Linked DNA regions of Homo sapiens: regions 1 and 2 are each linked to region 3. The links come from fine-mapping of genetic effects on gene expression. A gene starts in region 3. Each other region holds a variant in brackets. All regions are shown on one strand. Distances are between the middles of the regions.

Region 1 (2,500 bases), 29 kb before region 3:
TAAGTACTATTCATCCTTGTAAGAAAGTCCTTATTTGGGAAGTTTTACCAATAGTTAGTTAGAGGCAAAATAAGTACTCCAGTGTTTTCTGTGTACTTAATTCCCATAAGTATGTTTTTTTGCTTTTAAGGAATATCATCTTTCACTGTTTTCTTCAATATACCTTTTTCTTGCCTAAAACAGATGTAGTACACAAATTACTCCTTTTTTTTTTTTTTGATTACTTCATCATATGACATATGGTCTGTTGAACTATTATATAAAATTAAAAATAAATAGGGTCAGATGGGAATCTGAAGATTTGGATCCCCAGAGATCTTTGTGATAGTTCTAGTAGTATTCATAATGAGTAATCTAAATACATTTCAATTAGAGTGGAAAGATAAGTATCAGTACCTAATGTACTTAGTGGTTGAATAACTTTTACTTATTTTATCCCTTATCACCTCAAATGAGTCAGTGTGTACTTAAAGTAAACTTTTGTATTCTAAAAGGAAGATTTTTTTTACCAAGTAAGTTTTTCTAAGTTACTAATTTTCTTACATGTCAACTGACTCTTAGCTACTGTTTTCATTTTTCATGAAAGGGAATATTTAACATCCACTTTTCAGTGACAGTGAAATTTTAACTCAAAATATCAAGGAACAAGTTACCTTCAGTATAAAGATTCGTATGTTTTTCTGAACTGGTACAACAAATTCCTTTTATTAAATACAAATTTTATTTAAAAAATTCCTGTAGCCCTTTTAAATTCTAGTATACTAAAAGCAAGTATTTTATAACATACTAATATGCCTCTTGAAAAATGATTAGTATAAAAAATTTCTTAGAACATAACTTGATTCAATAATTACATTATAAGCCATGCACTTAAGCAGTATTGAATCACTTTTCAGTTTTTAGCAGTCAAAGTAAGCACCCTCAAGATGGCTAAAATCCTTTATGTTCTGAATATTTATGTAATCCTTTGGCAGTGAAAACCCTGTGTCTGATAAGTCTCAGAGACAAACTGCTACTTAGAATTACAGGGGTTCACTGTTGTCCTCAGGATTGACATTTCTTTAGTCTTGTTTCTAATTAATATGTAGACAATTCTGAGAACATCTGTGATAAAAAATGATGATACAATGGGGGCTTCATAACTGAAATAAGACACAATGAAATCTACAGGGTTTATGTTTTATATTCAAATATAACCTTATT[G/T]ATGGTATACTAGCCTCCTGCACAGGGGGATTTCCTTCACTCATAGATTCCCCTAACTTCATCTCCTCTTTTCCTTGGGCTATTAGTCAGTCAATATGCTTGTGAACCTGTTCAGGTGCTTGATGACATGCAGTCTTGAATATATTTAGATGAAGGTGTCTTGAAATTTGCAGGCACAAAGCACTAAAGTATATCACCATATCAAATGAAGAAATCACCTTTAGAAGCAAAAAAGAAAATATAAAATCGATTATGATCTATCTTTTCTCAAGTAGCACTATTCTGTTTCTCCCCCAAATATCAAACCTTAACCTAAAATTCTTCACCAAAAATACTACATTTTAAAGCACTTTAATACATTTCAAATTTGGACCTCACTGTAGTCCTCTGGAAAATGCAGGTTATTTCACAGTTATAGACACTGAGGCTCAGAGGTAAAAAAGACGACTAAAATACAGAAACTAGAAAGTAACAGAACCCAACTCTCCTGACTCCACATTGTTTCAACTTCCTGCTGTGCCACGAAGCTGCAAATTTCCTTCTAGAAGAAGTTATCAGTCATCTTATAATGAATTAATTCCATCATATACATTTCTGTTTCTTTGAGGTTAGTTGTAAGAAGGTAAAAGGTCTAGAAAAGATACCATACTTGAAGCATATACAGAATTGTGTTTACAAATTTAAAGATGGCCTCTATTTAGAAACTTTGCCCAGAGTCTACAGTCAAATGCTTCTCTTCAGAAAATGAAACCCAGGAGAAAAAGGAGACTCATAGCTCTGCCCTTGGAGAGGGAATTCTCACCCATGAGGGGAAAATCTCTATCATTTATGTTAAAAGCTTACTTGAAAAGTACCACATTGTGTGTGTGGCTTTTTTTTTTTTTTTTTGTCATCCACATAGTGTTTTAAATAAAAATTGAATTTGACTTCCTCAGTTTACCAGTCTCCATCACAGGTGTAAACCAGGCCAATTACTCGTTACGACAGATGATTGATTTTTTTAACACCTGGTATTTTAATTCAGCAATTCCACTTGGTAATACATACCTAAGTTCACTAAAAGAAAACTTACATTGAGTTTTTAGATATTTTGATTAATTATCCCCTATTTTTTAAACTGGATTGTTTGGGAGCCCTAAAAATATTTATAGTGGATACCAAATTAAAGGACATTATTCTGATTTTTAAACATTTTTTTTTTTAATTTTGCCTGAAAACGTTCATTGTCCACCTCAAAGAATTAAGTATATCTCACTGCCACCATAGGAAGAATGAAGACTTCTGAATGGACTATGAA
Region 2 (2,852 bases), 93 kb after region 3:
GAGTGCTGAGTTTATAGGCATGAGCCACCATGCCCAACCAATTTTAATTTTTAATTCAGTAAATATATGACACACTAATACAATATTTACTGTATTCCAAATTAAAGTTAGTGTGTATAATACACTAGTTATGCACATAAACAAATGATCTTTAGTTTATTCAATAATTGTTAAGGGTGCAAAGGGATCTGAGACCAAAAGGTTTGAACCACTGGTTTTGAATTTATTGCAAATCTCTTTGGAAAAAGATTTTGTGCATGTTATTTTTAAAACAAACTCAGGTCATATATATCATATACATCTGCAGCTTTGATAAAATGAATGAATCAGTCAAAATAAAAACCTTACATTGATTTTGAAGCAATAACTCATTTTCCTAAGTGCACCATAATAGAGACAAAAGGGCAATAGTGTCTAGTAACACCTACCCTATGCAGAATTCAGCTATCTAGCAACTTACCTAACAGCTTCTGACCACCCAAATAAAAGGGCCTCTGAAGGGCCTCTGCATTTATCTCAAGCTCCTACGTTCCAGGCACTAAGAGTTTCTGTGTTTTCCTCATGGAAGAAGGCCCTAGCTCCTCAGTAAACCCAGGGCCTGGGACTTGGGAAAGGTAAGCAGGGTGCCTGAGGAGCAAAATTTAAGGAGGTCACTTAAGGGGCTGAACCTGCATTTTGGTGACCCAGAAAGTCAGTGCCTTCTTAAATGTTGTGCCTTAGGTGGTGCTAAACTCTACTCAGCCAGATTAATTACCTGGAATGGCGTCTATAATAAAGGACAAAGGGGAGTGAGGGGAACAGTTTCATATGCTGACTGACAAGAGTACTAAAGAAGACAGCACACTTCTAGGAGGGATAAAGTAGGAAAGCTAAGAAAAATTGGAAAGAAATTCAAAATACAAATCAATATGAGTCCATTTTTCAAAAGAGCAAATAATTTGGGCCCTCAGGGTGTCACATGCTACTAATAACTGATATCTATAATTTAAGACAAATTATATCCACTGTACTTTATTTTTTAAAGCAAGGAGTAATATATTACATTTTAAGAATGTTTCTATTCAAACTGGTGGAAAAAATAAGGCTCTGAGGTTATATAACAAAATTAACCTTTAGCTGTGCAGAGAATCCAGCTATTCAGAATGATTCAATCAATTTAATCCATATTTATTTACTATGGTCGAATGTTGCC[A/G]AAGACTGTACTGTACTCTAATGTTCTGAATAGATGAAGTCTAATTGTACCTTGATCATGTAAATATTCAATGACTCATTATTCAACCTTTGGAATTTCCCTGAATCTACAGGGTTTTTTTTCCTCCCCTAGTCAATTCATTCTTTTGTCCTTCTAATTATGCAAGTTTCATCTCAGGATGTCATTTCACACAGGAAGAGGATTAAAATATGGTCCTTATTACATAGCAACAAATAGCTTCTCATTGTTAACATGGGGCTGGGGGAAAATTGCTAAGATCTGAGGACTTGCCTTCCTCACTACTCTTACCATGTTTTAAAGAATCAAATGGGGTGTGTTTTGCAGGGGAAGATTTACTCAGATTGAAGGAGCTTAAAATTTTAGCATAGGTCAAAAAGAAATTATTGCAAAAGCAATTTGAATTGTTAACAGTTTCCTCCTTTACTGTGTCTTTTTTGGGGATCTTGAATCAGTTATTATTGTTATTATTATTTTGAGACAGAGTCTCACTCTGCCACCCAGGCAGGAGTGCAGTGGCATGATCATGGCTCATTGCAGCCTCCTGGGCTCAAGTGAATCTCCTGCTTCAGCCTCCCAAGTAGCTGGGACTACAGGTGTACACCACCACATCCAGATAATTTTTGTATTTTTTCATGCTGTTTCACCATGTTGCTTGGGCTGGTCTCAAACCCCTGGGCTTAAGCAATTCTCTGGCCTTGGCCTCCCAAAATGCTGGGATTACAGGCATGAGCCATTGTACCTGATCTTGTATCACTTATTTATGTGGCTATAGGGTTATAGGATAAATTTCTTAAAGGCCTTGCTCCAAACTGTTGCTGGACCTCACATTGGGTGACTTTTTAAAAATAGAGGAAGAAGAGTCCTGACGCCAGGTGGGGTCATAAAAATAAAATTCCACCGCAATAAACACAGTGACACTCAATCAATCACCCACCACATCCATATGTGGTCATGGAGAGTTCTTTATGTGGTCATCTCAGGAAAGCGCAGACTGAGGAAGACCCTATCCACCAAAAAGCACCCCTGATAAGAGAGAGAAATCTTCTTTTTTTTTTTTTTGAGACGGAGTTTCACTCTTGTTGCCCAGGTTGGAGTGCAATGGCGCGATCTTGGCTCACCACAACCTCCGTTCTCCCAGGTTCAAGTGATTCTCCTGCCTCAGCCTCCTGAGTAGCTGGGATTACAGGCATGCGCCACCATGCCCTGCTAATTTTGTATTTTTAGTAGAGATGGGGTTTTTCCATGTTGGTCAGGCTGGTCTCAAACTCCCGACCTCAGGTGATCCTCCCACCTCAGCCTCCCAAAGTGCTGGGATTATAGGCATGAGCCACCACGCCTGGCCAGGGAGAGAAATTGTAAAGTCCCACAAACCCAAGACTTATAACCCTTGGAGACAGACATAGATATTGTTCAACTCTGTAGGGTAACTCTTTCATCTAAGTGGGAAAGGCCATGTCCCCACAAGAACAGTGAAGAAACAACCCAACCGTTATCACCTTATGCTGACAACTACAGACCCCCGAATTGGACATGGCTCATTTCAGTAAGAACACAACAGAGGTCATGGAGTATAGACCTTTTATTTGATCTGAGCTTCTATGGGTGAAAGCGAAGATGTATCACCACAAGTAAAAGAAGG
Region 3 (2,800 bases):
TCCACTGTATTTCTGTTAATCCAACCTCAACCTCCATGAGTCCTCCACAAGGCCTACACTCAAATGATTATAAAGGGACTTCACTATTTGGAGCAGAGAATAGAAAGTAATGTCACAGAATGTGCAATGTAATATTTATCCCACGTAGTATAAACTATAGATGGGAGTGAACTCCACTCTGCCCCCTATCCCTCCACACTCAGCCCAAAGGGTGCTTCTGATGAACAGCTATCCAAAGCCTATATTTACTCCTTATTTTGTACAAAGGTCAAATGTAATTATTGCTAATAAAATGTTGGGGTTTTTTTAATCCCTAGGTTGTGATGACAAAAAAATTATTGCCTTGATAACATTCCAGTTTGTTTTTCTTGAAAAAGTCGATGAAGCAAAGAGGAAGTTACCTCTTAACTCATCTTTGATCAGTGCTACCGGTCATTTCAAGATCACTAGCTCAACCTTCCAGAAACGAACGGTTACGAAAGTATTCAAAGGGCGTCTCGGGCTTGGCACAAGTCCCTGTGCCAGGCAGGACGGAGATGGGGGTGTTCAGTCCCCAGTGTGCAAAGCACCCGACCGCGGGTCCGTCTCACAGGTTGGCGCCGCATGGGATAGCGGCTGGGCAGGCGCCCTCCGGCCCGTCCGCGGCCGTGGGGAGGATCTGCGCGGACATAGGACCTGGGGCAGTGACCTTAACAGCCCCTCCGCTGCCCAGGGGAGGCTTGGGATGGTCACGGGATTGGGATAGTGGCGTGACAGTCTCCAGGCGGCCCAGGGCGGACACCGCCCGGGGCAGTGGCCAGTCCGCCCCTCCGGGGCCCGGGAGAGGCTCAGCCGCGCGTGGGTCCGCCCTTCCCCCGGCGCCTCCAGCGACCCGCCCGCAGCGCATCTGGGGCCCGGCTCGGGCGATCGGCCAGCCCTACCTCTTCGGTGGCCGTGGGACAGTAGGAGATGAGCACGAGCGTGGTGACCACGTTGACGGCGAGCCCCAGCAGGGTGATGGAGTTGGGGGCCATCCAGAGCGGGATCCACTGGAGCAGCCAGGTCCAGTAGAGCTGCAGCGGCGGCTCGAGCAGCGAGACGCCCGCCGCGCTGTAGCGGTGCTCCTCCAGTCGCCGCAGCTGCGCCGCGCTCAGCGGCTCGCTCAGCGCCCTCAGCCAGCGCGGCGCGGACCCGGCCCCGGCGCCTGCCGCCATGGCCGCCTGAGGGCCCCGCCGCCGCCACCGAGCGCAGCCCGCGCCTGGCGCTGGGGGCAGGGAGAGGTGGAGGGAGAGGCTGGCGGCCGGGTCCTGCGACTGCCGGGCTGGACTCACCGGTCGGGCCCGCACGGCGGAGGTCGAGGTCAGGCCGGCCTGCCCGGCTGCCGGGGCCCCAGCCCCAGAAGCTGTGGGGCCGCGGCTGCGGCTCGCGGGTGGGGCGGGGCCTCGGGGAGGGGTCCGGCTGGGGGCGGGGCGGAGGGGGTCCTGCTAGGGGCGGGGAGGCGGGTGCCGCGCTCGCGGGTCACCCTCGGCGCCCGCCAACGGCAACTTGTTATCGGCGATCAAGGTCCTTGACTCCCCAGGGGCCGGCTGCACTGCGCCTGAGGTCTGATGTCTTAACCCACGGCGTCGGATTACGCCCTGAGGTCGTCTCCTCGCGGGCTGCACCACGACCGAGCCGGTTCCTCTCCTAGGGGTCGGAACACGACTCCGGTCGCCCAGTGTTAGCCACTGCAGGACCACGCTGCCCGCAGAGCCTGGGGGTTTTCGTGTGAGAACACAGTTTTGCAGGGCTCGGGTCACGGGGGTGACGGCCCCATCTGTCCTGCTTGGTAAAACACACAAGCACAATTCTCCCTTTCTGTACGGAGGAAGGCGGCCCTGCCATGTATTCGCTCTAGAGACCCATCACTGCGGATTCAGAGACCAAGGTTTTGAAACTGAAAATCAGGGCTTAGAAACACTAACAAGGAGACCGAATGGCTGAAACCCCGATACCTATTTTCTTCAGCGCATTTGATACCAACAAGGGTGAATATTTTTACACATACTCTTCCCTGGAATAAAGGGCAGGAGTGTCCTCCCCCTGCAAGGGGGAACAGGCTGGCTTGCCACACGCATTGGTAGGTCACCGGCCCCTTATCTCACAGTGCACTCACTTGGACAGGGGACATCTGTCATAAACACGTTCTGTTGCACAACCTGAGACAGGCCTGTCACTTGCTTTGCTCTTCACTTCATGGCTCTGATCTGCACGCACTTTCTAAGGCCTAGGACAAGCCAGAAATTGCTTCCAAGACACTTGTGTGGCGCAACCTCTATCGGCAAGTGCAGTTTGCCTCACGGGCTTCGTCAAACACTTGGCACAGGGGTCCACGAACTGCTGCCTGTGTGCCAGACCCAGCCCACCACCTGTTTTCCTACAGCCCTCCAGCTAAGTATGGTTTTGACATTTTTAAATGATTGGAAAAAATCAAAAGAATACAATTTTGTGTTGTGAAATTATATGAAATTCAAAGTTCAGTGCCACGAATAAAGCCATGTTTATTCCTTACCTATTGTTTGGCTGCCTTCATGCTACAAGGGCAGCAGAATTCAGTTGTGACAGACCGTATGGCTGGCAAAGCCTGGACTATGTCCTACTAGGCCCTTTAAGGAAAAAACTGGCAACCACTGCCTTAGAGCAATGAGGGTCTCTACAGACCAAGCGTATATGTCTTAGGAATATGGATCTCCTCATCTTTAGTGTGAAAAACGATGCTGACAAATGCAGGAAAGGAAATGGAATGATGGAGATCCACTTTTAACAATGCTGGTTTATGTGC

What was found. PIP is the estimated chance that this variant, and not a neighbour inherited with it, causes the effect.
Region 1: its variant is the best candidate, but not a certain one, in a credible set for the expression of CHPT1 in stomach (GTEx, PIP 0.50).
Region 2: its variant is the best candidate, but not a certain one, in a credible set for the expression of CHPT1 in esophagus mucosa (GTEx, PIP 0.88).

What each region holds. Positions count from the first base shown.
Region 1 is chr12:101,725,215-101,727,714 of GRCh38, reverse strand. It overlaps CHPT1 (choline phosphotransferase 1), which reads right to left. Exons shown (of 9, transcript NM_020244.3): 8 at 1,311-1,421. Among named protein-coding and RNA genes, the nearest start is that of SYCP3, 13 kb to the left of the region's middle. The variant G/T (reference allele first, on the strand shown) is at 1,204.
Region 2 is chr12:101,602,766-101,605,617 of GRCh38, reverse strand. The region is part of intron 1 of MYBPC1 (myosin binding protein C1); the gene reads right to left. All of the region lies in intron 3 of LOC105369938 (a long non-coding RNA gene), which reads left to right. Among named protein-coding and RNA genes, the nearest start is that of MYBPC1, 9.2 kb to the right of the region's middle. The variant A/G (reference allele first, on the strand shown) is at 1,193.
Region 3 is chr12:101,696,255-101,699,054 of GRCh38, reverse strand. CHPT1 (choline phosphotransferase 1) reads right to left here and starts at 1,415. Exons shown (of 9, transcript NM_020244.3): 1 at 921-1,415. The coding sequence starts at 1,193. RefSeq lists silencers at 682-871, 1,132-1,471 and an enhancer at 1,692-1,941.